Regions from separate parts of the Homo sapiens genome. Here region 2 is reported to be linked to region 1. Evidence: microRNA targets listed by miRTarBase, many of them from high-throughput screens and not tested one by one. Region 1 holds a microRNA gene; the other region holds the end of a gene's coding sequence.
The links. Region 1 holds the annotated microRNA hsa-miR-3147 (GGUUGGGCAGUGAGGAGGGUGUGA, at 6,935-6,958, shown strand). A microRNA usually pairs through its seed, bases 2 to 8, with sites in the 3' UTR of a target mRNA and lowers its output. Matches are read on the target gene's strand: a 7mer-m8 pairs with bases 2 to 8, a 7mer-A1 pairs with bases 2 to 7 and ends in A, and an 8mer does both.

Region 2: miRTarBase lists FZD2 as a target of hsa-miR-3147. Seed matches in the 3' UTR shown: 8mer at 9,172-9,179 and 7mer-A1 at 8,706-8,712.

What each region holds. Positions count from the first base shown.
Region 1 is chr7:57,398,096-57,413,202 of GRCh38, forward strand. It overlaps MIR3147 (microRNA 3147), which reads left to right and starts at 6,930; the gene lies at 6,930-6,995. MIR3147HG (MIR3147 host gene) reads left to right here and starts at 6,672. Exons shown (of 3, transcript NR_120505.1): 1 at 6,672-6,900; 2 at 10,181-10,306; 3 at 12,839-14,052. LOC105375299 (a long non-coding RNA gene) reads right to left here and starts at 6,024. Exons shown (of 2, transcript XR_927305.3): 1 at 5,961-6,024; 2 at 3,902-5,042.
Region 2 is chr17:44,553,599-44,568,705 of GRCh38, reverse strand. It overlaps FZD2 (frizzled class receptor 2), which reads right to left and starts at 11,222. Exons shown (of 1, transcript NM_001466.4): 1 at 7,444-11,222. The coding sequence starts at 11,017. The coding sequence ends at 9,320. RefSeq lists silencers at 1,338-1,538, 10,476-10,525, 10,771-11,017, 11,416-11,515 and enhancers at 10,012-10,972, 11,190-11,957, 11,958-12,727.

The DNA.
Region 1 (15,107 bases):
TATTTATTGAGATAGTCTAACTCTGTAGACCAGGCTGGAGTTCAGTGGCATGATCTCGGTTCACTGCAACCTCCTCCTCCCAGGTTCAAGTGATTCTCCTGCCTCGGCCTCCCAAGTAGTTAGGATTACAGGTGTGCACCACCACGCCTAGTTAATTTTTTTGTATTTTCAGTAGAGACCAGTGTATCATCAGGTTGGCCAGTCTGGTCTCAAACTCCTGACTTCAGGTGATCTGCCCACCTCAGCCTCCTAAAGTGCTGGGATTATAGGCGTGAGCCACTGCACTTAGCCTCTCTCCCTGTATCTTCACGTGCTTGCAAACCCAAGAGGGAGCTCTGGGGCCCTTGGTTAGGGTCAGGGCCCCAGAGGCCCAGGGTCAAGGCTATGGCTCCAACTCAAAGATGTGCATCCCTGCAAGAGAGGCTGCATCCAACAGGCATGGAAGAGGCTCCACTGTGGCCTGCTCGAATTCCTGCTGTGGAAAGCAAGAGGAGGTGTTCCTTGAAGAAACAGGGGGATCCCACCGATCTCAGGGGTTCTGTCCTGGCCTGAAGCCATGGATCGTCCAGCCTGTGCTGGGGTGGGGAGCCGACCTTGCCGTTCTTGGCTGGGGCTGAGGGTGAGGGTCCCACTTCGCCAAAGGCCTAGGCCGGGGTTCCAGCCACAGGCCCCACTGGGCAGCACCGGGCCCCGCCCCGCCCCACCTCTCCAGGCCTGGTGCTCACCCTCAGCAAAGATAGTGAGGATGGTCTCAGACACGTCATGCGACCCATCCACCAGGCTTCTCCCACACTGCTCTTAGCCCCACAGATGGCAGCCGAGAGGTGGAGCGGAAAGTATGACCCAGTGGACAGGGGTGACCTGGTGACGAATCCCTAGACAGCGCAGATGAGGCTGTGGGGCAGCAGGCGAGTAATCTGTGGTGAGAGGGGCTCCAGGGAGTCGGAAGACAGGCTTCTTCCCCCACAGCTGGAGGCCTCCACATCAAGAGAGTAAGGGGTCTTCCTCCCCCAGCCCTGCCCTCCTGTGGCCACAGGGCCTGAAATGCCTCCATTAGAGGGAGCAGAGAAACCGCCTGGGTGAGCTGGGTTCAGTGTAGATTTGGCAAAAGCTGGGACAGGGGACCCCATGACCTTGTGACTTGTTAACATTCCACCATAGAAGTAACTGGGGGTGTCTAGTGGCCTTGGAGTCCAGCTGGGGAGACAGGGGAGAGGAGGGGGAGGGCTGGGGGAGGCAGCTGAGGGTCCTGGGCTGTTCCAAGTGGGAGACCTGGGGAGGGGGTGTCTGGGCAGGAGTGATTGGTGATATTTCAGGGGGCAGGTTTTGGGTGGGCACCTGACAGTGGGGGCTCACCACCACTACCACCCCAATGGCCAAGGTGATGTGCCTTCTCTGTGGGGGCTCACCACCACTACCACCCCAATGGCCAAGGTGATGTGCCTTCTCTGTGGGGGTTCCTTACTGAACTGGTGAACCTGGACACTGCCATGAAGGACTGTGTGGATGGGAGTGAGCCTGGGGCAGGCAGGTTGGGGACCGGGATCCTGAGGTTTGGGAGGAAACAGCCTTGGACTCAGCCCTTCCATCTCAGCAAGCCTCCTCTTGTGTGAACCCCACCGTCCTCCCCATGCCCCCTGAGCTGGGGCGTCAGGCCCATTTTACCTCTGAATGGTGGAGGCTCCAGAGCAGCTGCCAGTCCCTGTTCCCTGAGTGGTGAAGCTGCAGAGCTGCCTGACTGCAAAGCTGCAGGAGCCGCAGGAGCTGGACTCAGCCTCTCCCTCAGGCGGTGCCCACGGAAGGAGAGGGAAATTATGCCCCTCCCAAGTCAGGCAGCTCCTAAGTGGCCGAGCATTTTCTTTGTATACTGGGCCTCCGTTTGTCTGTCTGTTGTCAGAGAGTGTTGGGGCAGAAGGTCCCTGAGCTACAGCTCCCACACCTCCTCGTCTAGAGCCCAGAGCCTGATGCAGGTCCCAGTGCTGTTCTATGCACATTTTTCACCCCTGCTGGCCTGGCAGTGTGGGAGGGTGTGGGGATGGGGGCAAGTCATGGGCCAGGGTCCTTTCTGAGGGTCTTTGGCTGGCTGTCTTCCAGGGAAATGTGATCAACACCCAGAAAGGAAAAAGGGGCGCAGCTGGGGCCCTCACTTTGGGGGAGGATGGGGATGTGGAAGTCAGAGACCCCCACCCACTGACCCTGGGTAGAACACTCCCCGGCTCCATCCTCTGCAACCTGGATTTATTGGGAGGGTTTGATACACAGAGGACGAGACCCATCCCAATGGAGGGTGTGGGTAGGGGACAGGAATCCTGGACAAATTCCTAGCGGGGGCTGTTTCTCTGTTTATATCCAACTCTGAGAAAAGGGTGGGGCTGCATGGGATTGGAGAAGAGGGGACCTACTAAGAGAAAAGCCCTAGAGATCAGCCCCAGTTTACTCCGTCCCCAAGGGCCCTTCGGCATCTTCCACCCAGGCCCTGTCAGCCTCCTGTTTTTCCCCTCTGGCTCCAGGAGATTAAAGTCCTCCAAGAAATGCAGCTGCTTCCGTGACAAGAGGGAATTATCATCTTCGGACTCAGGAGGTATGGGGTTGGTTTCAAGTCCGTGGAGCCGCACAGTCTGATTGAGAGGTGAGAGCCTAGCGGATTGACAGAGGGTGGGCGGAGACTCTGTCTTGTGGTCAGTTTCAGACATCCTGTGGCCACGGCTCCCTGGTCAGCAGCAGGCCCTGTTGAATGGGCAGGCACTGGGAGGGAGGCCGGAGGTGTGGCTCCTGGAGTCTCACAGCTGCTGCTGTGTCCTACAGTTACAACCTGTCCTGCTGCTGAGCCCCATCCCAGTAGGCCAGCCACACCCTCAAGGCCAAGAATACCAGGCCATGAAGAATCTCAGGTCTACTGAGTGCCCAGGTGGCAGGGGCAGAGTGCCTCAGGGCTCAGTGAAGTTTGGGCTGGGCTCCCAGCTCCACTGTTATCAGCCCTGTGACTGGGGCAGGGGACTCACTACTGTAATACTTGAGCATCATTGTCATAATTTTAATGTGTCTGTCCAATCCTTTTCTCTTTTTTATCTCCCTCTATCATGTACTACTGATCTCTGTTAGTATTTTTGTTCAAATAAATAAACATATGTTATATAGTGTGTATTATACTTTCTCATGATTTCTTCACTATACTGTATGACTCCACTCATACAAGGTACTTAAAGTAGTTAAGTTTACAGAGACACAAAGTAGAAGAGTTATTCCTGGGGCTACAGGAAGGTAGGTGAGGTGTTTAACGGGTACAGAGTTTCAGTTTTGCAAGATGAAAAACACTCCCTATAAATATGGAGGATGCTCGTAAAACTGTGTGACTCTGCTTAATTCCTTTGACCTGCACACTTAAAGACTGTTAAAATGAAAAAAAAAATTGTTGGCCGGGCGCAGTGGCTCAAGCCTGTAATCCCAGTACTTTGGGAGGTGGAGGTGGGCAGATCACCTGAGGTCAGGAGTTCAAGAACAGCCTGGCCAACATGGTGAAGCCCCATCTCTACTAAAAGTACAAAAAATAGCAAGGTGTGGTGGTGCATACCTCTAATCCCAGCTACTCAAGAGGCTGAGGCAAGAGAATTGCTTGAACCCAGGAGGTGGAGGTTGAAGTGAACCAAGATTGCACCACTGCACTCTAGCCTGAGCAACAGAGCGAGACTCCATCTCGGAAAAAAAAAAAGAACAGACTATATCTATCTGCAACAGCATGAATGCATATCACAAATATAATGTTCCATAAAAGTAAGTAAATGTAAAAGTGTACATACTATATAATTTGATTTATACAAAATCCAATAAGCAGACAAAACTGAGCTCCTGGCTTTCAGTAACACTGGAGTAGCTTGTTGAATTAACACAGATTATAATGATGAAACTTGAATAGTATATTATATATTGTTATAGAAACACATCTATATAATACAAATATGACCTACGTGTGAGTAAGAACTGAATGAGGATTTCAGCTGTGCCCACTATAGGGGAGATAGGTGTTGACGTTTGAATCTAGCCCAATTAACACCATTTGTAAACAATAACACTGCTTTTCAAAGGTACACAACATAATCGAGAGTCTCTATAATGATTCTTTACAGTTTTAGTACACAACATTAAAATTCATGAGACGTGTGAAGAAACACGAAAATGAGATCCATACACAATTTAAAAAGCAGGCAGTAGAAGTGATCCTAAGATATTTAAGATGTTGTAATTCAGGATGTTTAAAGGCAGCCATTATAAATCTGTTCATGGGGGTAAAGGAAAATATTCTAATCATGAATGAAGAGCTGTGGAACCTCAGCAAAGACATGGAAATTACGAAACAATAGGAAGATAAGGAAATTTAAAAAATACTTTTGAGCTTATTCAAAGATTAGAAACAGAACACAGAGCAATAGAAATTGTCCATTCTGAATAAAAGAGTGAAAAATCTTAAAGAAAATGAAGAGTCTTAGAGACCTGTGGAGTGATTGAGTCCAAGTTGAAGAGGGGACAGGAAAATTAAATGAGGTACAAAGTAAATCACCAACTAATAGCTGAAAACTTCCAAAATTTGTCAAAACCCCCCAATTTTTATACCCAACATGTCAACACACCCCTCCAAAAAATACAAATAAATCCATACCAAGGCCATATTGTGATTTAGAAGACTAGCAGGGCAGAGCTTTCTATTGACTTGCTGTGATTTCTAATTTTAACTACTTAGAAGAATGAAAAATAGGTTCTCCTTAGAGTTTTTTTTTTTTTTTTCTTGGAGAAAGTCTGACTTAGGCACAGATGACTGACAGTTATTAAAGGCCAATGACTTTCCAGCCTTCTCTTAAATTTCCAGTGTCTTACGTTGGAAATTATTTAAATTCGTTTCTTCCAAATCCTGCAGTAATACTGATGCTCCAGAAAGATGTCCCACGGAGATTCTGCTCTTGTGCGTCCCTCCTGCACGGAGCTGAGGCTGTGCCTCCTCTAGTTTCATTAGCGTGTAGTCGTGGGGTACTTCGAGTTAATCTGGAAAACTAAATGTTAAAATGGATTCAGGCCGGGCACAGTGGCTCACGCCTGCAATCCCAGCACTTTGAGAGGCTGAGACGGGCGGATCACTTGAGATCAGGAGTTCGAGACCAGACTGGCCAACATGGCGAAACCCCATCTGTACTAAAAATACAAAAATTAGCCCGGCAAGGTGGCGGGTGTCTGTAATTTCAACTACTGGGGAGGCTGGGGCAGAACAATTGCTTGAACCCAGGAGGCGGAGGTTTCAGTGAGCCCAGATCGAGTCAGTCACTGCACTCCAGCCTGGGCTACAGAGTGAGACTCCGTGTCAAAAAAAGAAAAAAGAAAAATGGATTCAAAGAATTATCACTGTTAAGTTCCACCAGCAAATTATTAAACGTGGTTCCAAAGGGATATTTAAAAAGGGAAATTAAGTGTTTCCATGAAGGTCCTATTCACAGCAGAAACGCAGACACTGTTCATGACCTCACCACACAAACTTCCCTTATGTGTTGGGAGGGACCAAGGGGCTCTCTGGCCCTGCACCTGCGTTAATTACGGCCGGGAGGTCCACACTAGGACCCCAAGGTCTGGGAACCAGCCTGGATCGGGGGCAGAGAAGCGGTGGATGTGGCTCCCAAAGTGTCTTAGGGGCTCCCTTCCCTGTGGCTGTTTCCTGACTGGATGCAGCAGGGTCAGGCCTTTCGCTGTGACGTTTTCAACTCTTTGTCAGAGTGGCAGGAGCGTCCCTGTGAGAGGCCTGACCCAGGTGTGGGTCATGCAGCCAGCCCGGGGTCCAAGGGGCACTCCTGGGATGAACAGGAGGATTTGCGACAGCCTAGAGGATAGAGGAAATGGTGGCTTTGAAAAGGCAAGTGCTAGGTTATCAGGGAACGCATATATCCATTTCTGGCAGCGAACGGACGGTTTCAGACACTCACGAGGGAGCTTCCCGCGTAGGATGCCAAGAAGTCGGAGAACAGTCAGACACCTGGCGATTAGCCCGTCCTACGCAGGGACTACACTGCGCATGTTCAAAGGGGGCGTGTCAGGGGTGGGGCGAGACGGAGGGGCGGTGCCGAGGGGAGAGGCAGCGCAGAGGGAAGGAGCGGGGCGAGGAGAAGGGGCGGGGCGAGTACTGCTCCAAGATATGGCAACCGTGACAGCTTTGCGAGTAGCTCCAGGTCCCCTGCTGCTCCGTGAGAAATCAAACTTCTGGCAATGACGAAGCATGAAGCCAGCATCTCAGGGAGAGGTAGTGACATAATTACACGATAAGACAAGCCGCCTGGTCTCGCTGTCACTTGGCAGGCAAGAGAGGTTCGGGAACAACCAGGCTCCCCTTTGGCATGGCAGAACTGCTCTGGACTCGGGAAGGTGTGGATTGGAGGGCGGGAGCTACGCCTGGCATACTGGGACTTGTCATCTTTGATTAGCTTCCAGTTTTTTAATTGCAGGGCGACCGGATTACAATCCCAGCCAGCATGAACATGGGGCGGCGCGCAGTCCTGAAGGGGGAAGCCGGGCTGTGCCGGCCTGGCTCTGCCGGCCTGGCTCTGCATGCTGGGAGCTGTAGTCTCTTCACCGCTCCCGCCCGTTGTTTCAAGCGCTTCGGGACTGCAATCCCAGCATGCCCCGGTCTCAGGGGCGGGGCGCAGTTCTTGCGGGAGGAGCGGGGCGGTGCGCTCCTGGCCACGCAGGCTGGAAACTGTAGCTCTTAACGGTTCCCCGCCCGTTGGTGGCAAGGCGGCTGGACTAGAATCCTAGCAGGCGATATGCGAGAAGGCGGGCAGCCCAAGAGGGTTGGGCAGGGCAGTGTGGATCTCGCCGCTTCCACAGCGATGCTGGCTACTGATTTCGGACACCTCCTTGCCATGGGATGTGAGTCCGGAGAGGGACAGGAGGGGCAGGTCCGGGTTGGGCAGTGAGGAGGGTGTGACGCCGCGAAGTGCACCTCGCCCTTGTCCAACTCGGACGGGTGTGGTCCTCACCTCACTTCCCGCTGCTAGGCTGGGTTCCCTCTCCCACCTGCACCCGGGGTCTTTCCTGGACATCACGCCTCCTCCAGCCCAGGGAGCCACCTGCTTTCCTAAGCTGCTGTGGGAACTGGCCTGCGGTCCAGGCACTGTCCACTGTGCCGCTGCCCTCTTTTCTCTCCAGCCAGAGCGCAGTGCAGCCGCTATGGGGAGAAATCCGCCGCCCGGCCCGCCAGTGCACAAGTTCAGAGCTTTGCGTGGGGCAACATGCTCTGTGGCTTCATGAAAATGTCACCCTCACCAGCGCCTTTTTCGCGGATGTGGATGTTGAGGTGGCAGAGAGGGTCATTATTGGTTTACCCAGGAGATGCTAACAGCAGAAGAGAAAATCTCACATCCCAGGCGTGTGTCTCTGGTGCGCCATTTTCCCCCAACCCATTTGGTGGAAAGTTCCCCAAATAGCTACCTAAAGATGAAGATAGTTTAGGCATTTTACACGTGACATCATTGGCCTCATCTCAACCGAGGCCTGACTGGGCAGTGTCTCAAAGACACAATGGCAACCTGATTCTCAGGAACAGGTGGTGCTCCAGCTTTGTGTGAGCGACTTTCAAGGTATAGAGCACTTGGGGAGTCTTTGAAACTCCTCAGGCTTCACAACTTTGCTTTGAATGGAATGTTCATCACCCCCGGCACTCACGGAGGTACCTTTACTCTCTCGGGCTGATCTGTTTAATTTTTCTGTCCAGACAATGGAAACTTCTGGGAGCACTTCTGGTTTCGTGTAGCTTCCTAATAATTGATGTCCCTTAATTCCAGGTGTCCTCAGGGAAAGTTCCTTTGATTCTGGAATGGCTCCAGCTTTTATGCTTTTGTGTTTAATCCGTAAAAACCAAGGTGTTAATCTACATAAAAATAAGACCTTGTTCATATCACACATTCCAACAGGCTTCATTTCTGATTCCTGAATGCGGATTACTATTTTAAAAAAGCCTAAAAACTCTGGTCATGGATATTAGACACTGTTATTGTACTTTGTGAAGAATTTACTCCTTCAGGATCAATTACACACGGGCTCATCAGCACCTTTGTCAATAAAGGAACAAGAACCATGTGGCATCTATGGATGTGGTGAGGTGAAGTATAGGGAGACCACAGCATAACAGCTCTTCCCTTGTTTTCAGTAGAGTTTGTGGGGTCAAGTACCTGCATTCTTCCCCCATCCCTCAATATTCTCATTCTACTCTTGACTGTTCCCTCTTTAGGTGGGAGTTTCTAAATACACTCGTCCGCAAGTGTTGGTGGGGATGTTGTAATGTGAGTTCATCCATCATCCGTCACCTTAAAGATGAATGGAGAGGATTTTGTGATCTGTGTTCAAGAGGCACTGCTGTTGGGTGGGTGGCTGCAAAAACACGTGATCTCAGCTGTCCCCAGCAGCTGCCTCACAAGATTGGTCCTGATGCAGCCACAGCTGCTGTTCACAGAGCCAGGAGCTCCTTGCAGTTTGGTGTATTCTGCTGAGATTTGTGGCTCTGACCCTCCTCTGCTCACCCCATTCCTGGTAGTATCTGCTCAGCTGCCTGGTTTGGTCCAGTGTTTCCTGGGAGCCTGTTGTGTAACTGCATTTCAGAGGGTCTTTGGGGATTCCACCCTCACTACACCAGTCACTCTACACTGGCCATGCACTTAGCTTCTTGGGGCCCTGTGTGTGTCCTCTTCCAGTGGAGCTGTGAAGAGTTCTAGTTAGGGATAGATCTCATTCTCATGCACCTCAGGCTGCTTCAAAAGCTGATCATCTCATCTTTGGACACATGGACATTATTCCTTTTGTGTATTTTGAAGTCTGATGCTGTTTTTTTTTTCTTTTTTAAAAAGTAATGTGGACCCTTACAGTAACAGTAACAGTCATTTTTAATTATCTTTGTGAATTTAACTCTGGCAACAATTTCATGAAGTTGACATGTGGTTCTCATTTTATAGGTGAGAAAACTGACACTTGGAGAGGTAGAGTAGCTTTATTTACTTCACACAAGCTTTTGATGAATTTCAAGTCTCAACCTAGAAGTCTTCCTCTAAGGTATGACTGTGGCATATTCTTTGTGTTTCTCTGCCAGCATCCCGAAGGGGTCCACATCCCATTTGGACTCCATTTTCTTCTTAATGACAGGAAACTTCTAGAAACAGGCCTTCAGTTGGGGAGAGCACTTGCTGGCCCTTGGCCTTCCCTATCCTCCGCCTTCCCCTTGGCAGGGCTTAGGTGATTTGAGGGAGCTGGAGCAGCGACCAGCACTTACGTGGAATGCTTGTTGTTATGTAAAGATAACACCCACTCACTTTTTGAGGTGCGATTTTTTTGGTTCTAATTATTCCTCTGGGATTTCTCTTCCAGGTTCGTGCTTTCACGCACCTGTAATTCAAATACTGATGAAAACAAAACTATTGCCCTCCTACCAAATGGTAACAATGTGTGTATGTTTTTCTGTTTCTAATTATAAAAGAAATGCATGCTGTTTGAATAATGGCAGATCATAGAGATCTTTATGTAACAAAATTCTCCCATGTCTTCCTCTTCGTTCCAAACTCACTCCCTTCTTAGAAGGAATTATTATAGCTTGGTGTTGATTCTTCTGGATGTTTTCTATAAATTTATAAATACACATAAAGTTGGCCAGGTGCGGTGGCTCATGTCTGTAATCCCAACACTTTGGGAGGCCAAGCAGGGAGGATCCCTTGAGCTCAGGAGGTCGAGGCTGCAGTGAGCTGTGATCATGCCATTGCACTCCTGTCTGGGCAACAGAGTGAGACCCTGCCCCCCCCAACAAAAAAAAGAAGATAAATACATGTACAGTTTTTGAACACAAATTGTATCATACTATATTTTTTAATTTTGCTATTTCACAGGCAATATATCATTTACATTATTCTATATCAATGCATGAGATTCTAACTCCCTATTTTTAATGTCTTAAATGTATTCCAATGGGCATACAAGATTTGTTTCACTGTTTATTCTTTTATAGAAACTTAGATTATTTCTAATTCCATTGTAATTAAAAAATGCAGTGATAAGATTCTTGTACATAATTTACTACACTGACAACTAACCGTTCAGTTTATCTTGCCTTCTTTTAGTCAGAGAATATGTCACGAGTTTAATATTTATTTTATGATTTGATTCATAGGGAAATTAATGTTATGACTGGATAAGACAATTGTGAAGAAACTGCACTTCGAGGTTGTCTGTCTCCGTATTCCGATGGAAAAGGCTGGACTTTAGAAGCATTGCTCGCTCCTTCAGTTTCTAACAAGTCAGTATTCTCATAGCAATTTAAATTTAAATGTTTGAATTGTTTCTCCTTCCCTCGTTCACCTGAAACTTCTGACTCCAGGGTTTTTCAGTTGGGGTTTAGAGAGGATAACTCCCATATCGCTGTTGTATCTATTTCTCTTCAGCATCTGGCTGCATGTGCTAAAGATCATAGAATTAGACCAGGTCCTGTATATATTTTGGGACCAAAAATTCAAAGTAATCAACTCAAGACAGGAGTCTACAACTTTGATTCTTAACAAAAGATTTCCTTTGATTTCCCCAAATCTTTATGATTCCTAGAAGAAATTCACCCATGGGTGAAGCATGTGGTTCTGTTGAATAACATTTTGTTGGGGATTTCCACGTCGAGTTTCATGAGGCATACTGTTTTCCAGGGTTTTTTTTTTTTTTTTGGTACTGCCTTTCTCTGATTCTGTTGGAGAGTAATACTAGCCTTCTAAAATATATTGGGAAATGTTCCCTCCTCTGCTACTTTTAGACAATATTATACTCATAATGACAAGTTTTCTGTAAAAATGCTCTGAAAAAAAAATGTAGGGTGGGCTGGGCATGGTGGCTCATACCAGCACTTTGGGAGGCCGAGGCAGGCAGATCACTAGGTCAGGAGTTCGAGACCACCTGACCGACATGGTGAAACCCCGTCTCTACTAAAAATACAAAAATTAGCCAGGCATGGTGGCGTGTGCCTGTAATCCCAGCTACTCAGGAGGCTGAGGCAGGAGAATCACTTGAAACCAGGAGGTGGAGGTTGCAGTGAGTCAAGATCACGCCATTGCACTATAGCCTAGGTGACAGAGCAAGACTCTGTCTCAAAAAAAAAAAAAAAGTGTAGGGTGCCTTTTCTCTTTTGTACTGGGTAATATTATTTATCTTGATTGGTATTTACCCATATAGCTGCCAATGGTTTAATGAGCCCCCATCTTCTACTCACCAATCTTACCCCTACTTCAGCCACTCCTCCCTACTCTCTGGTACTCAGCCCCGTGTTTTTCTCTCCTCACATTCTCAACCCTATCTCTTTAATGTGGGGACTTCCATGCGTTGCCTATATCCAACCACCCTGCACTGCCAGGAGGCTCTGCAGGCTCTAAGCTGGGGCAGCAATGTGGTCCCCTTAGTTTCAGCCTCCAGACCTCAGTCCTGTGCTCCTTGCAGATGCTTCTAGTGTCTGGAAACATCTGGTTCATGTAGTTGGTCTGGCTTCCTATGTGTTTGGTTCCAGAGGGAGTCTGTTTCTTGCTCTTCCACCATACAGAGAAGGCAAAGCTCTGAATTGATTTTGAAATCAATTCTTGATTATTTCTTTTGGAATGAAATACATTGTCTATTACTTTATGATGACATAAATATTGTAGCTTAGTTTGTGACAGTTAGAGTTTCATTTTTATTTATTGTTTTACAGGCCATGCCACCATGCCCAGCTAATGTTTTATTGTTTGGCAGAGACATGGTCTCACTCTGTGGCCCAGGCTAGTTCCAATTCCTAGGTTTACACAATTCTCCCACCTTGGCCTCCCAAAGCGCTGGGATTACAGGCATGAGCCACTGTGCTTGGCCAATAGTTAAAATTTTAAATTATTATGTACAATACTGTGATATGCCATATTTAACTTATTCAGAGACAAGGCTTTAATAAAAATTACTTTATGTTAGAATATTTTTCTTTAATTTTTTCAGATTAGTTTTCTTTTTTTCCCCCTAATCTTTTTGTTCTAGCCTCAGTCGCCTTTACCCTGAGTTTCCATGTTTCCATCCTGGGCAGCAGAGGCAGCTCCATGGATGATGGGCCTGTGGCTCTGTGTACTTGGAGCTCTTACCCAGTAAGACTTTGTGACCAGGAGGCCTCTTTTCAGGACAGATCACCTGCATGTAAAACAAAGAGCCCTTCCAGGCCAGGAGTACTTAGCCAAAATCTTTTTGCTTTCGCATTTTATTTTTGTTTGTTAGGGTTTTTTTTATTTCTTTGAGACAGGGTCTCTGTTGCCCAGGCCGGAGTACAGTGGGACGATCTTAGCTCACTGCAACCTCTGCCTCCTGGGTTCAAATGACTGTCTTGCCTCAGCCTCTCAAGTAGCTGGGTTTACAGGCTCACACCATGGTATCCTGCTAAGTTTTGTATTTTTAGTAGAGACGGGGTTTCACCATGTTGGCCAGGCTGGTCTCAAACTCCTGACCTCAGGTGATCCACCTGCCTCGGCCTCCCAAATTGCTGGGATTAATGGTGTGAGCCACCACAGCCAGTGAGTTTTTGAGTCATTATCCATCATTGGACACAATAAATATCCAGACACACAGATGTTCTCCAACATGTCTATGAGTTTAGAGATTGGACATTTCTTTTTCCAGGGATCCTGGTTCTTGACCTTCTCATTTAAGGTTTTGTCATCTCCCAGCAGCAGACACAAGGTTTCCTTAAGCCCTGTCAGTGTAGAGGGGAGGGTCTTTGAAAAGTACCAAGGATACACTGTGAGTATTTCAAGATTTATCCACATTTCTCTGTCTCTTCCAGGCCAGTTCTTGGAGATACTAGGAAGCCAAGAGTTTCCTCCAGGAATGGAGATTCCTTGGAAGTGAGGTTCACCTTGAGTCAAGAAAGACGAATCACACACGGTCAAAGGCAATTGCCCAGGGTCTCAAGAACAGAGCCAGAAAGAAGAGCTGGGGCCGGCGGGATTGTGGGGGTCCTCTCTCCCACCTGAAAAGCTACAGCTGCCTGCCGATCCTCTCAAGAGGAGACCTCTCTGGGCTCCAGCACCTAAAACAGACAAACCTGGGAGGATGCTTCTCTCTTCTGTGTCACACGTGTCCTGGAGAAAACCCATGTATCTGAATGACCAAAGAAAAGTATGAGAAAAAGTGCAAAATCTGTGCCAGGCCATTCAGTGTCTGGCTGGGGCTCTGGGGTGCACATGCATTCCAAGAAGACTGAAGGGTGCCAAGCCTGCAGGAAATGTCCATCAGACCTGCCTCTCACACCTGGAGTAGGACTGCCCGTCCAGCTTCATGATGCAGAACTGTCTTTAAAAGGTGACTGCAGATATGGAGAGAGGGAATTCTAACCCTGATAGAACATGACCAGCTGTCCTGCTGGGGAAAGCTGCATCTACCAGTGACACGCTGCTCAAACTGGCCCAGGACACACTCTTACTACTTAAGGAATAAGCCCCACATTTGCTCTTTGTGGGTAAAAGGAGAGGGTGAGAGAGGAGGGGAGTGTCCGCACAGACATGAGAAGCCTGCAGATCCAGATGACCCCTTGCTGATCAGAATATGAAAGATCGATATGCGGAAACAATGACCCCATAGCAGATGAGCTTCTAGAGCAGGCTTCAACCATGGGTCATCTGGACCCACTGGTGGAGAAGTCTGCCCCCACTCTATGTTGATGGTCTGGGGGATACCATTACTGAGACAGATTTAAGAAATAATCTCTACCTGTTGGCGAAATCTGGATGGTCACTTGTGCGAGACAGCAGTGTGCTCTCATCAGCTTTCCACAGGGCAGGCTGCGGAAATGGTGCTGAGAAGTCCTTTTGTAAATTGATTGTCCATGGCTGCAGACTTACCATCAAATGGAAGAAGATTCCAAGCTCTCAAAGAAAAGGAAAAATAGAAGGATGGAACCACAGACTCTGGGATCCTGCCAGAGCCTATTTCAGTGCTGCCAGGAGCTCCTCCTCCCCCTGCAGCTCTGGTCCCCACCTTGGAGCCTCCTTCCAAGGAGTGAGACTACCTTTCTGACTTTTTCTGACCATAGACACCTTTTCTGACTTTTTCTGTCCTTGGCACCTGCTGAGGACAGCAGACCCAGGGACCCGGGCTCCTGGGCCCATTCTTGCCCAGCTTCTTCTTGATCATGTGACTTGAAGGCATTCTTGTGCAGTGGAAGCAGGGCCCCAGGACCATCTGATAGATTGATGGTCTCTGGCCTCTGCTCCACTGATGGTCGGATGGTGGCCACTCAGGGTGTGAGAGCCTAGCCATCGCTGCTTCCTTGAGTTGAAGAGGTTGGAGGCTGGTCCACCTGCTCCTATCCCACCCTTGGCGATGTGGATGGTTGCTCTTTGAGCCTGGTAACGTCACTGCCTTGGCCCTGCCAGGCATGCCTGCCTTGTGGGGGCCCTGCGTACCCACACACTACTTTAAGGGGCTTGCTCTTCCTTGGGCCAAATTCTAGTTTTGGCCAGTGCCCCAGGAAGTTCAGTCCCCTGTTTTGTTATCTTGGCTATTTCTGGGGCACCCGTGGTTCTCCTGGGTCCCTTTTCTCCCAGGGCTTGGGCTGGGCTTGGCATCTGTAGGTCTGGGATGTTTGCCCTGTGAGGGAGGCTCTGTCACACAAGTGGGCAGGCATGGGGACATGTGACAGGCTGCTGGCTGGCTAGGGCTCTGAAGATGCCACAATCCTTCTCCTCTACAGCAGCCTCTGAGTCCAGCTTCCACATTGACACTGATTTCACCGGGCGCAGGAGCTGCCTGGGGTTGTCTGGGTGCTGTCTTGGCTCCTTTAAGGCTGTGCTGCTCAGTGGCCCCTGAGAAAGGTCAGGTCCAGGTGCCACCATGCAAGGGGAGTGTCTATGGCCCTACTGCTGGGATTTCAGTGGGCTGGGCAAGGCCTGGTTGTGGGGGCCCTGATGGTCTTCAGGGCCAGGGCCTGTCCTATGGTCCTGGGGGTGTCCAGGGAAGATGAAAGAACAGGGGTTCGGCATCCCTGCTCAAAGCTGCACTGTGGACACCATGAGCCCCGGATGTCCAGGTCCATGGGGAGTTTGGGAGAGAAT
Region 2 (15,107 bases), not on the chromosome of region 1:
GGTGTATCCACAATCCCCCAGCTAGACATAAAAGCTCCCCAAGTCCCCACTAGACTCAGGAGCCCAGCTGGCTTCACCCAGTGGATCCCGCATCGGGGCCACAGGTGGAGCTGCCTGCGGGTCCCGCGCTGTGAACCCACACTCCTCAGCCCTTGGGTGATCGATGGGACTGGGCGCCCTAGAGCAGGGGGCAGCGCTCTCCGGGAGGCTCGGGCCGTGCAGGAGCCCACGGCGTGGGGGAGAGGAAGGGGTGGAGGCTCAGGCATAGTGGGCTGCAGGTCCCGAGCCCTGCCCAGCAGGGAGGCAGCTAAGGCCTGGCGAGAAATCCAGCACAGCAGCTACTGGCCCAGGTGCTAAGCCCCTCACTGCCCGGGGCTTGCGGGCTGGCTGGCCGCTACGAGTGCGGGGCCCGCCGAGCCCACGCCCACCCAGAACTCGCGCTGGCCCCCAAGCGCCCCGTGCAGCCCCAGTTCCTGCCCGCGCCTCTCCCTCCACACCTCCCCGCAAGCTGAGGGAGCCAGCTCCAGCCTTGGGCAGCCCAGGAAGGGGCTCCCACAGTGCAGTGGTGGGCTGAAGGGCTCCTCACGTGCCGCCAAAGTGGGAGCCCAGGCAGAGGAGGCGCCGAGAGTGAGCGAGGGCTGCCAGCAGGCTGTCACCTCTCAAAAACACGTGGAGGAACCTGAAATGCATATTACTAAGTCAAAGAAGCCAATCTGAAAAGGCTACATATAGTATGATTCCAACTCTATGATATTCTAGAAAAGGCAAAACTGTGGAGACAGTAAAAAGATCAGTGGTTGCTAGGGGTTGGTGGGGCTGGGAGGGTTGAATAGGTAGAGCATAGAGGATATTTAGGTCAGCGAAAATAGTCTGTGTGATACTTTAATGTTGTATATATGTCATTATACATTATAGAAAGTACAACACAAGTCCAGGCACGGTGGCTCACACCTGTAATCCTAGCACTCTGGGAGGCCAAGGCAGGCGGATCACTCGAGCTCAGGAGTTCAAAACCAGCCTGGGCAATATGGCAAAACCCTGTCTCTACTAAAAAAACCAAACCAAAACAAAACAAAAAAACCACACACACACACACAAAAATTAGTCAGCTGTGGTGGCACACACCTGTAGTCCTAGCCACTTGGGGGGCTGAGGTGGGAGGATCCCTTGAGCCCAGGAGGTCAAGGCTGCAGTGAGTCGAGATCGTACCACTGCACTGTAGCCTGGGTGACAGAGACCCTGTCTCAAAAACAAACAAACAAGAAAGTAAACCAACAGTGAACCTTAATGTAAACTGTGGACTTTGATTGATAATGATGTGTCAGTGTAGGTTTATCAATTGTAACAAATGTACTCCTTTGGTGGCCGGATGTAGTAGCTCATGCCTGTAATCTCAGCACTTTGGGAGGCTGAGACAAACGGATCATCTGAGGTCAGGAGTTCGTGACCACCCTGGCCAATATGGTAAAACCCTATCTCTACTAAAAATACAAAAATTAGCTAGGCGTGGTAGTGGATGCCTGTAATCCCAGCTACTTGGGAGGCTGAGGCAGGAGAATCGTTTGAACCAGGGAGGCAGAGGTTGCAGTGAGCTAAGATGTGCCACTGCACTCTAGCCTGGGCGACAGAGCGAGACTCCATCTCAAAAAAAAAAAAAAAAAAAAAAGTACTCCTCTGGTGAGGGATGTTGATAATGGGGAAGGTAGGTTATGTATGTGTAGGGACAGGGGTATATGGGAACTCTTGTACCTTCCTCTAAAAAAATTAGTCTAAAAAAAAGCATAAGGACTAAAAGCTGGGTTTGAGCTCCAATTCTGCAATTACCTGTGAGCTTCAGGCAGTGTCTCTCTGGCCTCTGGGCCTCATTTTTCTTTTTCTTTTCTTTGTTTGTTTTTTTTTTTTTTTTTTTGAGACGGAGTCTCATTCTATCACCCAGGCTGGAGTGCGGTGGTGCGATCTTGGCTCACTGCAACCTCCGCTTCCCAGGTTCAAACGATTCTCCTGCCTCAGCCTCCTGAGTAGCTGGGATTACAGGCAAGCGCCACCACGCCCGGCTAATTTTTGTATTGTTAGTAGAGACTGGGTTTCACCATGTTGGTCAGGCTGGTCTCCAACCCCTGACCTTGTGATCCGCCCGCCTCGGCCTCCCAAAGTGCTGGGATCATAGGCGTGAGCCAGCGCACCCAGCCGCTCTCACACGGTTTGAAATGTGCCAATCAGACCAACTTTTCCTAGAGGTGCCATGTACACCTTTACCTTGACAGCCACAGGCATGGCTCAGGGCACCTTTCTTCACCCTTTCCCCTCCCAGCTCAGGCGCCCATGCGTGCCCGCAGCAGGCAAAGGCCAAGCCCAACAGCCAAGAGTGGGCGGGAGAAAGCCGTGGTGGTAGCCAAACAGGGCAAACGGATGGGCGCTTCTTGCCGGCTGCGCCAATAAAACCTTTCCTCCCCTGGCCAAAGAATTCAACACGGTCTGAACTAGAGGAAAGATATAAGGATTAGGGGGGCCCACTTGCAGTAAGCAAGGGGTTCTTCTCCCAGAATCCTCCTCTTTTTGGCCTTTTAACTGTTTTTCTTTTTTTCCTTTTCTAAGTGAGAGGGCTCCCCCATCCCAGTAGTTTCTGATAGGGAAGTTAACGGAGGAGCGACCCCTGCTGGCTGAGAACTGCAAATTCAGCAGGGCACATCTGAGACACTCTGAACAGATACAAACAGCCTCTAAACCAACTTTTCAATCCCAAATTCGATTCCAGGCTTCAGGCTGAGGCCCTAGAGAGAAAAACCAGGTCCGAGGGATCCAAAGCCAGGCAACAGGCACAATGTAAATGGGCAGAACCAATTCCTGACGAGTGAACCCCCCACCACATAGAAGGAGGCCATGTTCCATGGCACAAACAGGCCCAGGGAACTCAGTTTGCTGACAGCAGGAAGAAAGGGAGGGAGAAAGGGAGGTGTAGATGAGAGCAGTTAATTCCTATTCTCCAGGTTTTCCCTGCTTCATGGGTACATACCGCATTGGTACCCATGGCTGGCACCTGACAAGGTCACCAGGGCTCAGGGACAAGAGGTGGAGGGTGCAGGGAGGATACTCGCTTTCTCTCTCCATCACACTCTGAGTATTCGCTGAAAGAAGGAAGGGAGTAGGGGACGCCTTTTTTCCCTGTCTTTCAGAATGGGCAACCAGTTCTCTTCACCACCCCCAGCTTATACTCTTCTGGAGTATAATGTATTCTGAACCATTGGGATTGCTTTGACCCTCAGCATCTGAAGGAAAAGCACCTCATAGCCCTCTGCACAAAGGTTTGGCCAAATTATGATTTATAGGAAGGACTGGCGTGGCCTCAGGAAGGGACCATTCATTTCAATACCATTGAACTAGGACCAAGCCCCTCAATTATACTAAATTGTCCATGATTGACCAGGGATTTGATGAAAATCCCACTGCCTTCCTGGAGAGGCTAAGAGGGAGCTTGGTAAAGCACCTCTCTCTATCTCCTGATTCAGTAGAGGGACAACTAATTCTAAAGGATCAATTTATTACTTGGGCAGCTCCTGACATCAGAAGGAAGATACAAAAACAGGCCCCGGGACCAGATAGTACTTTGAAGAAACTCCTGAAAGTAGCCACCTTGGTCTTTTATAATAGAGACTGGGAGGCCCAGGAAAGAGAGAGGAGATACAGGAAAGAGGCAAAAGCTTTAATGGCCATCGTGCAAGTCCACAAATCCCAGAATTCCCAGGGTGCACCTGTTAACTGCTAAAAGATATGGCAAGAACAGTTATCTCTTCTCAAGTTGAACTGCTCCTATATAAGGTTTAATTTCTTACAGCTCAGGGTACAATGTTGTTAGTATATTTTACTTCTTGTCTCTGGAATCTTTGGCACTAAATTCTTTCCTTGTATAATACACGTTTAATTTATGCACACTTAACCTTATAAAACTTGTTTTATTCTCTTGCGCCTAGAAGCCACCAAACTGCAAACGGTCAGGCAATCGGAGCCTCGGATGATGGCTCCCCTTTCCTAGGAACCCTTAGATAGACCTCTAGGAGGAGTCTGACTGCTGTTTTCCCCAAAACAATGCCCCCTATCAGCATGAAGCAGCTAAGACCAGTCATCGTCCATATTCTAAGGGCAGTTAGATGTACCTCTTCACACGGAGGAAATGATAGGGAAGTGCTGGGAAGGGAAGACTGTGGTCCTTTTAAATGATAGGGAACAGTTTAAAAACTATTGGTAACACTTCTCTTGTCAAGAAATTAGATCTTTTGATCCACTGATTTTATTTTTGGAAATGTATTCTAAGTGGGGGCCAGGCGCGGTGGCTCACACCTGTAATCCCAGCACTTTGGGAGGCCAAGGCGGGCGGATCACGAGGTCAGGAGATCGAGACCATCCTGGCTAACCCGGGGAAACCACATCTCTACTAAAAATACAAAACAAAACAAAAAAAACTAGCCAGGCGTGGTGGCGGGCGCCTGTAGTCCCAGCTACTCCAGAGGCTGAGGCAGGAGAATGGCGTGAACCCGGGAGGCGGAGCTTGCAGTGAGCCGAGATCGCGCCACCGCACTCCAGCCTGGGCGACAGAGCCAGACTCCGTCTCAAAATAAATAAATAAATAAATGTATTCTAAGTAATTGGAAAAGTGCTACAATTTATTGAACTACTGCCTGAGGGCTCTGTAGATGTATGGTCCCGTCTACTACTCATGTTACCAGACAGGTACTATCAGCCTTTTTATAGATGAGGACACACGCTCAGAGGTTAGAAAAATGCCACAAGTGCTCACAGCTACTACTGCAGTGAGTGGTACCAAAGCATGTCAAAGCCTCTGCTCGCCATACATTGTCTGTCTCTCTCTCCGTTTTTCCCAACTACAAATTTCATTCATCCATATTCCACTCTGCTGCATCTTGATCACTTGTTACCTGATCAAGGGGCAGGATTGAACTGAGTGAATAATCTGGTTCCGGGGTACTCCTGGTTTTGTAGGCCCAGTGGCTTTCCCTCCTCACCCCCACCCCCTTTCCATAGCAGAGGTGATTAGAGACCGGGGGATACTGGAGTCTGAGAAGGTAAGGGCTGTCCTTTAGAGAAGGAGAGGTAGCTAGTAATCAGGACTAGAAAATGTCTAGACAGGCCAGGCACGGCGGCTCATGCCTGTAATTCCAGTACTTTGGGAGGCCGAGGCGGGAGGATCACCTGAGGTCAGGAGTTTGAGACCAGCCTGGCCATCGTGGTGAAACCCCATCTCTACTAAAAATACAAAAATTAGCCAGGTGTGGTGATGCACACCTGTAATCCCAGCTACTCAGGAGGTTGAGGCAGGAGAATTGCTTGAACTCGGGAGGCGGAGATTGCAGTGAGCTGAGATCGCGCCACTACACTCCAGCCTGGGCGACAGAGTGAGACTCAGTCTCAAAAAAAAAAAAAAAAAATGTCTAGACCAGCGACTCGAAAACTAGTTTGGGGGCAGGCGGGTAGGGAGAGAGGTCAGGGAGGGATGATCTAGAAACTTCCTAAAGCTACACACAATTGCATATTCATGGGGGATCTGGCTATTTTTTTTTTCCAGGAAGAGGTCCAAAGAGTTTTGAGATTCTCAGATGGTCAGTGGCCCCCAGAAGTTTAAGATCCATTTAAGGTAAGAAGAGTGATTCTAGAGGAGGAGGGACCCTGGTACAGTGAGTAGCAAGACTGCAGAAGGGAGGGCTCGCCCGGCTCAGACCCCATGGCAGGCACCCCCGGGACAGCATCTCCCCACCCTCCTGAAGAGATTTTGGAACAAAAAGCAGTTCCCCATCCCACTGGGCTGAACCTAATCTTAATTCTTTGGGGATGTTCAGAAGAATTTTGTCTTGAGAAACTTTAGTGGCCTTTTTCTAGAGCTAGCTCTTCAAAAAATCTTAAAGGGCAAAAAGTTTGGAACTAACGTTAAAGTCTTCTGGAGGGAAGTCTGGGCTGGGAGGAGGGAAAGCCTGATCAATAAGAGGGGGGAGTCTGGAGGAGAAATGCCTGGGACCTTGAAACCCCAGACCATTGCCCTGGGGGAGGGCAGAAGAGCAGGCAGAAAGCAGCGTGGGCCTGAGACCTGCCCCAGGCCCAGGTGCCACAGGTGAGTGTATTTCCTTCTTGGCCCTGACCCTCCAGCAAACACAAAGCCTCGCTCTTCCAGAGGGAGGGACCAGCCCACTTACAACATGGAAACCCTTTTCTGCTCAAAGGACGACCTAGAAATCTCCAAAAGCAGATCTCTAAGCTCCTGTTTTTAACTGGGTTTTCTGAACAAGGGAGCTGAGGTGCCCTCTCCCGTGAGGCAGTGAGTTCAGGTGGTTTACCTCTGAGTCTTCCTCCAGGGTGCTTTCTCCTCTTTACCCCAAATTCCCCAAACTGTGGTCTAAAGCTTCCCTTCCTCTAAGAGTGTTTCATTTAAGAAACAGGACAAGGGTGTGGAGAGGAGGGTTCCCCCACAACAATTTTCAGTAGGGTAATTCAGCCCTTGGCTACTCCCCCTGAAGAAGGGGAAGGGTATCTCTAAGATCTGTTCTTTCCAAAAGATGGAACTGTCTTATTATCTGTCTTCCTCCTCAGTCATATAATCTATTTTGTCAGTGTCTCAGGCTCTCTTCCTTTATGTTGGCAGGAGACTTTGAGGAGGGGGTTGCTCAGTGCGAGGGTCCAGGGACAAATGTACCCAAAGCACACAGAGCCAAGATCTTGGGTGGCTTATAGGTGGGAGAGGCTCTCCCCAATCTTCAACAGAGACCAGCTCCTCTTCCCACTGAGCTCAATACCAGGTACTGGAAAATCCCACCTGATTCTCTGGCTTTTCCCATTATTACAAGGAGAGGCACTCACAATTTGTTTGTAATTTTACTCTTTCCTGCAGCCTTTGCGGGGTCCCTTTAGAATCCTGCAACAAATGGAGCCGGGGGCGGTGACACCTCCTCCCGCCTGCTTCTTTGATAATTGAGGGAACCTCATGTTGAGATCTCACACTTGTCATCATTTGATAAAAAGCTAGGTTTAACTGGCCACTGACACAGATGATTTGGGGGGAAATTATATATTTTTGGGAGGGGGCGCTGCTGAAATCCACAGGCTTCATACAATTCCAAACAAAGCCCCACATATCACTTCAATTACCACCAAACATTTCCAGTTCCCCTCCCCCAACATAAACTAACACAAGCAAACACTTCGAAGTAGGGGTTCTAACTTAACTTTCTCCCTTGTCCGGAAGACAGCCAACAAAGGGTGGTAAGGCACCATTTCTCCCATCACCATTTAGCTAAGAAAGCAAGGTCCAGGGCTGGGAGCACTCTTCTCTGCCCCACCCCCAGCCAAGTAGGTAAGGGAGAGAGGGGAGGAGGAGGTGTGGTTTGGTTAAACTAATAAAATGTTACAACCCTGTTAAATACAATTAAAAGGATAGATCTCTCAAAGATAATTAAATGCACTTTATTATTATGATTATTAGCTTTTAATTTACACTGTTAAGAAATGGAAGATGGCGAAAACTGAGTTATGTGGCATACTTGTATTCAAACTAATCCTTTGGAATTAAAATTCTAAAATATTCCAAATAGTTGAGGGAAATAATATGTGTTGGAAACTGGAGTTCTCACACCAGCAAAGATACTTTTAGACATCACTTCTCAGGAAGTTAACTTAAGAGAAGTCTTGACAGGCCAGGCACTGTGGCTCACTCCTGTAATCCCAGCACTTTAGGAGGCCGAGGCAGGCAGATAACGAGGTCAGGAGTTCGAGACCAGCCTGGCCAATATGGTGAAACCCTGTGTCTACTAAAAATACAAAAATTAGCAAGGAGTGGTGGCGTGCGCCTGTAGTCCCAGCTACTTGGGAGGCTGAGGCAGGAGAAACGCTGCAGTGGAGGTTGCAGTGAGCCAAGATCGCACCACTGCACTCCAGCCTGGGCGACAGAGCAAGACTCCGTCTCAAAAAAAGAAAAGTCTTGACTTTATTTGTAGGGGCTCAGGGGAAGATAAGAAACATCTGCTTTAAACATCCTATCAATCTTGTGATATAGAATGTAATGTAAACACTCAACCCACCCCCACAGCCACAAAGGGCCTATCCAGAGACTTCTTCTAAAGCAAAGATACCACCTTTTTTTTTTTTTTCATTTTTTTCTGGACAAATTTTAAATAAACCAGTCTTTTTCTCAAAGGAAAACTAAAAAGCCCACCAGCCCATCAGTCCCCTCCCTCCAACCCACCCGTCTTTATCACTTTTTGAAAAAAATAAGCCCCAAACAACAACAAAAACCCACACAAACCAACCCAGAAACTGCTAACCTGAACGCCAGAGATTTTTGGCTGCGGGAGTGAATAGACTGCAGGGAAAGAAGGGAAGAGATGCTAGGAGGTCTCAAACTCCCCAGATTTGCAAACAAGTGCTCAAAGGCGAATGCTTCCCCTAGACATGAAGGGAGGCAGGATCAGTACTCCTGGTGGGGTGTATGTTGGTGGGGGCTGTTTCAAAACACACTTCAAAAAGCATTTTTGGGCCACTGGAAGCACTTGGTGCAGCGAATTGAAAAGAAGAGAAGCCAGACAGGAGAAAGATCTTCCAGCCTGCAGGGGAATGGGCCAGGGGGTGGAAGCCATTCCTCACCGGATCTCTGCCCTCTCCCCACCAGCACACCCCGACCCCGATTTTTTTTTCCACGTCTTCATCTCTGTTGGGACTTTTCCAAGAGTGAGTGAAGAAGACAGGACAAATGAGTAGGGAAAGAAAAGGGGGAAGGAAACAAAACGAATCCAAGTCCTGTTCAAAAATATCCAACGGCTTCCACAGGCCCAGCGTCAGAGAGGAGGCTCACAAATTTGGCTTTTATATTAGTTGAATGGAACAAACTCCTAACGACTCAAAGCCAACAAAAACAGCGCTCAGGCTGGGTGCCTCTCCCATCAGGCCCAGCCCTGCCATATCACCAAAAAACTCCAAAAGTGGGGCGGGTTTTGAAGGGCACTTAAGAAAGAGAACCCTCCCCCCAACTACACTCCCCAACACACACACACCTCATTCTTCAGTCCTGGCGCCCACACCCCTGTTTTTTTTTCTCCTTTTTTCTTTTAAATAGAAAATATATATAATTAAATTTACAAAGACTATTTACAGTTTTAATTACAAACCTTGTGGGGGTGTTGGGCAGAGAGTTCTCTTTTAAAAAGCAACCTAAAAGTGAAATGGTTTCGATCGTTTTTTATTTAAAAAAATAAAATACGGAGTCTGTAGGGGCCCCACCCCGGGCGGAGGAAAGCGCCGCGCGGTTCCGGCCTGGGGGCGTCCCTCACACGGTGGTCTCACCGTGTCGGCTGTTGGTGAGGCGAGTGTAGAACTTCCTCCACGAGTGCAGCGTCTTGCCCGACCAGATCCAGAAGCCCGACGTGATGCCCACGATGAGCGTCATGAGGTATTTGATCATGTAGACCGTGAAGTCGGGCGACATGCGCGGCGTGTAGTGCGCCGGGCACGGGATGGCCAGGCTCTTGCAGTGCTGGCTCACCCACGAGCGCTCCCAGTGCTCGCGGAAGGCCTGCTCGTAGAAGTAGCAAGCGATGACGATGGTGGCGGGCACTGTGTAGAGCACGGAGAAGACGCCGATGCGCACCATGAGCCGCTCCAGCTTTTCGGTCTTGGTGCCGTCGTGCTTCATGATGGTGCGGATGCGGAAGAGCGACACGAAGCCGGCCAGGAGGAAGGACGTGCCGATGAACAGGTACACGAAGAGCGGCGCTAGCACGAAGCCCCGCAGCGGGTCCAGGCTGTTGAGGCCTACGAAGCACACGCCGCTCAGCAGGTCGCCGTCGATCTGGCCCATGGCCAGGATGGTGATGGTCTTGACGGCCGGCACGGCCCAGGCGGCCAGGTGGAAGTACTGAGAGTTGGCCTCGATGGCCTCGTGGCCCCACTTCATGCCGGCTGCCAGGAACCAGGTGAGCGACAGGATGACCCACCAGATGGAGCTGGCCATGCTGAAGAAGTAGAGCATCATGAAGAGGATGGTGCAGCCCTCCTTCTTGGTGCCCTGCACCACCGTGCGGTAACCGTCCTCGGAGAAGCGCTCGTTGCACACCACGCGCTCCTGGAGCACGAAGCCCGCGATGTAGGCCACCGACACCATGGTGTAGCAGCCCGACAGAAAAATGATAGGCCGCTCTGGGTAGCGGAAGCGCTGCATGTCTACCAAGTACGTGGTGACAGTGAAGAAGGTGGAAGCGCAGCACAGCACCGACCAGGTGAGGATCCAGAGGCGCGCGAAACGCGTCTCCTCCTGTGAGAAGAACATGGAACCATCGGGCCGCGCAGGTTCGCAGGGCGCAGCACAATCACGCTCGCCCAGAAACTTGTAGCTGAGATAGGATGGCACCTTGAGGACGCGCGGGCAGTGGAAGGGGTGCTCCAGCGTGGCGTAGCGCGGGGGAGCGCCGCCGCCGCCCGGGCCACCCGGGGTGCCCCCGGCACCCGGCTGCAGTCCCGGCGGCGGCGCGGTGGTGAGTAGCGCGGGAGCTCCGTCCTCGGAGTGGTTCTGGCCGACGCAGATCTGCTCGGCGCCGTGGCGCGGGAAGTGCTCGCAGCGCAGGCGCTCGGGCCACTGAAAACCGAACTTGTTCATGAGGGCTTCGCAGCCCTGGCGCGCGCGCTCACAGATAGAGCGGCACGGCGGGATGGCCTGTTCCAGCACGGTGCACACGGGTGCGTACATGGAGCACAGGAAGAAGCGCAGTTCGGGCGAGCACTGCACCTTCACCAGCGGATAGAACTGGTGCACCTCTAGGCCTGCGTCCTCCTGGTTCGTGTGGCCCAGAAGGTTGGGCATGATGGTCTGGTTGTAGGCGATGTCCGTGCACAGCGGGATGGAGATGGGCTGGCAGAAGCCGTGGTCCGGGATGGAGATGCCCTTCTCCCCGTGGAACTGGGCCGGCCCGGCGGCGGGCAGCAGCAGCAGCGGCAGCAGCAGGCGGGGCAGGGCGCTGCGGGGCCGCATGCTGGCCGCCGCCCCCCACCCGGCTCCTTGGCGCCCCCCCCGCCCCCGCCCCCAACCCGGAGACTGCGCTTCTTCCCCGCCGCCTCCTCGCTGCGGCTGCCGCCTCCCGCGCCTCTTTGCAAACTTTACTCGCGGCCGCAGAGTTGGGGAGGCCGGGCGGGGGAGGGGGCGGTGCGCCTGCCCGCTTGCTTGCCGCGGTCGGACTGAGCAGCCGGAGACACCGCGCGCTGCTGCCCTCTCTCCTCTTCCTCCTCCTCTCGCCTCTCAGCTCCCCCTCTCCCCTCCCTTCTGCACCCAGCGACTTCTTTGTGCCTCCTCCAGCCCTCACCTCGGCCTCTCCGATCCCAATTAGTCGGTTTCAAGGGGGCCCCCGCTGGCGGCCCCGCCCTCTCCTCAGCCCCCCAAAAAAGGGATCCTTGAAACCGCCCCGTCGAGCTCTAAGCACCAACCCAAAATGTGCTCTCGGCCAATCAGATTTAAACCCGAGGACCAGGCCCGAGGGCTGGATTGGTCGACCACAACATAATGAGATCAGAAACCAGATGCCAACAAAACTTTCCCCCCCTTTTGCTTTTTAAAGAGACAAGCTATTATTATATTAAGGGCTGTTTGCCCAGCCCGGGATTTCTCCGGAGTTGCCGCGGCGAGATCGGGGGACACTACTCGACCCTGGCTCACTCCTCTTCCCGGGCCGAGGTGCTCTGCCGGGTGGGGACTCTTTAAACCCTTGCCCCCGCCCCCGATCCTCGAACCCCACCTATTCCTAGTCCAATTTTTCAAATCGAGTGAAAAATCTCAAATTTAAAAATTAAAACAGACTTTAAAAAAACTAACAATTTACAAAGACCTTTTCTGTCCGCTCTTTCTGGAGCCCAGGCGAAAGTTTCACTTCACTTTACACGTAGATCCCTCGCCCTCCCCCTCCACACACCCTTAAAAAACCCTCTGAAAAATGGGATCCTGTCTCTTTAAGAGACTCTTAAAGGGACCAGGACTCCGAGGCGTAATTGCCCCGTAGCCAACACAAAGGAGCCCATTATGGTTCTTTGTGTTCGGTGGCACCTCAAAGTGAGAAAACTCAGGAACTCGGAGGCCCGGAGCTGGAGGGTTGGGGCGGGGGGCTTGGAGGGAGCGAGGGAAAGGAGAATGGCCCGGAGCTGCGGCTTCTCCCTCCCGCTTCTTCTGCGGCAAATCTTAATTGTGCAAAGTAAAGTTTAGTTGCCCTAAGGAGGAGGTCTTAATCGAAAGTTAATGGTGGGGGGCGGGGGGTGACGGGCAATTTTGAGTGAAGGGACGACTCTCTTAGGCCTGACGAACGTTTGAGGGAATTTTCCTTCTGCCTCCCCACCTCTACCTCCGCCCCCTAAAAGCTTCCAGATCCCGTCTCCAGGGCGAGAGGGGAGTTTTACCCAAATCTTAAGTGGTTCCACACCAGAGAGGGGTGGCGTGTGTGACGCGGGAGGAAACTGGGGGGTTGTGGTGAATTATCCCCTCCACATCTCTCACCTGGTAAGGGGTGGGGTGTGGCCAGCAGGGTTCCTGCTACTTTTAGAATTTTTCTTTTCCCTTCTAGGATTTTAAATTTGGAAAGGGGTCGAGGAGGAATTTGCATGTAAATCTCCTGGGCCTGATACTGGATGATGGATCAATTATTTTCTGTTGTCTCTCCCGAGGGACAGGGGAAAGGGGGGACTTAAAAAGAAGAAAGAAAATTGAGTTTAGAAAGCCCCTTTGCTTCACAGTATGGGCCAAATCCTCACAGTCTGGTGAAATGTTTCTTGCTCCAATATAGAAAAGAATTGTTTTAAACAACAACAGCAGAAGAAGAAAAATAACAAAAAGAGGAAAGGAGTAGGGAGAAGGAAAAAATATTCTAAGTAGATGGATACAAAGGGATCCAGGTTTGACAGGATTCAAAAAAAAATTTTTTTTTCCTGATCGAATGAATGATATAAAGATGTTCCGGTTTCTTACAACTTGAAAATGTTCCTTATTACATCCTGGGGAATTTGCCTTTTCCCTACACCAGGATGAAAATTTTCCTTCAAAATTGGGGCATGAGTGGGTGTCGAGGGGGATATGCCTTTTTTTGTGCATCCCATTTCCAGCCCACCCATCTCTATTCCACCAGCAAGCCCATTTTCTCTCAGAGCAGTCTAAGGATGGGAATGTTGTGCTCTCTCTGCTCCATTTGAGCCTGAGCTTTTGATCCTCAGATCTCCTGCCTAGTCCATCTCAAAGCATCTTGAGAGCCGGTACCAAACATGGAAGCTGAGCAGTGGAAACAAAAATGAATGACAGGCTCCTATACCCCATTCAGGAAGCTCGCAGTCCGATAGGAAATTGAGAGCAAATCTCCAATGTAAACGCAGCATCTTCAATTTCCTTCCATGACAAACCCGTTTTCCTGGCCTAGGGCCAGGTCTGAATGACAGTTATCCCCTCCCAGCCACCCCAAGGCAGATGGGGAGCTGGGGAGCTGGAAACAGGAAATAGAGGACATTCTTCCATTCACTCAGGCAACCTTTCATTCCTTCAACACACTTTTTTTCTTATTTCAAACCACCATAATAGGGGCTATGGAGAATGTGGAAAAAGATGACAGCATCTGCCCTTCAAAAATTTATAGTAGGCCGGGGGCAGTGGCTCATGCCTATAATCCAGCACTTTTGGAGGCCAAGGCGGGCAATCACCTGAGATCAGGAGTTTGAGACCAGCCTGGCCAACATAGTGAAACCCCGTCTCTACAAAAAATACAAAAATTAGCTGGGCATGGTGGTGCATGCCTGTAGTCCCAGCTACTCAGGAGGCTGAGGCAGGAGCTGAGGCTTGAACCCGGGAGTCGGAGGCTGAAGTGAGCTGAGGTCGCGCCACTGCACTCCAGCCTGGGCAACACAGCGAGACTCTGTCTCAAAAAAAAAAAAAAAAAAGAGTTTATAGTAGCCCAGAAGAAAAGTGATTCCACAAAGATGTTACACTTGTCTAGCATTTGTACATGAAATAAGGAGAAATCACGGTATTTCATGTTTACTCTTGCCTTTCACGTGAGGGACCTGAGTGTGAACAGGACCAGAACCTGCATCTTCAGATTACAGGCCTACCTACAGCACTTCTCATTCTGCCAACCTGCCTCTTGAGTACAGGAGCCCTGTAACTAAAGGATGTAATTTGTTATTTGATAGATACAGCATTTATTTCTGAGTTTTTAAAAATTAGCTTGGGCAGGATGCAATGGCTCATGCCTTTAATCCCAGCACTTTGAGAGGCCAAGGCAGGAGGATTGCTTGAAGCCAGATTTGAGACCAGCTGGGACAAGAAGTGAGACCCCTGTCTCTACAAAAATTTTAAAACATTAGCTGGGCATGGTGGTGCATGCCTGTGGTCCCAGCTACTTGGGAGGCTGAGGTGGGAGAATTGCTTGAGCCCAGGAGGTTGAGGCTACAGTGAGCTGTCATCATGCCACTGTGCTCCAGCCCAGGCAACAGAGTGAGACCTCTAAATAAATAAATAAATTAGCTTGGTCATTGACTTGGACCCATTTGTAACTCTGCCACTAACTATACAGCCTTGGAACAGTCACTTTACTTCTTTGAACCTCAGTTTTCCCATCTGCCAAGTAGGAAACCAACAGATTTTAAAAATGTGAGACTCCACATCCAAAATAATTTCAGAATGACAAAAATACATTTCATAATCATAAAGCGCCTTTTAAAACAAGAAGTTACGTTGAATTAAATATTTATTCAGCAGGCATCCTGGGAGACCTAGGGTAATGGCTACCCTTTTTTTTTTAGACGGAGTCTCGCTCTGTCGCCCAGGCTGGAGTACAGTGGCACAATCTTGGCTCACTGCAACCTTCACCTCCCAGGTTCAAGCAATTCTCCTCTCTCAGCCTCCCAAGTAGCAGGGATTACAGCCGGGCACCACCATGCCTGGCTAATTTTTGTATTATTAGTAGAGACAGGGTTTCACCATGTTGGTCAGGCTGGTCTCGAACTCCTGACCTTGTGATCCACCCACCTCGGCCTCTCAAAGTGCTGGGATTACAGGCGTGAGCCACTGCGCCCGGCCAATTGCTACCATTTTTTGA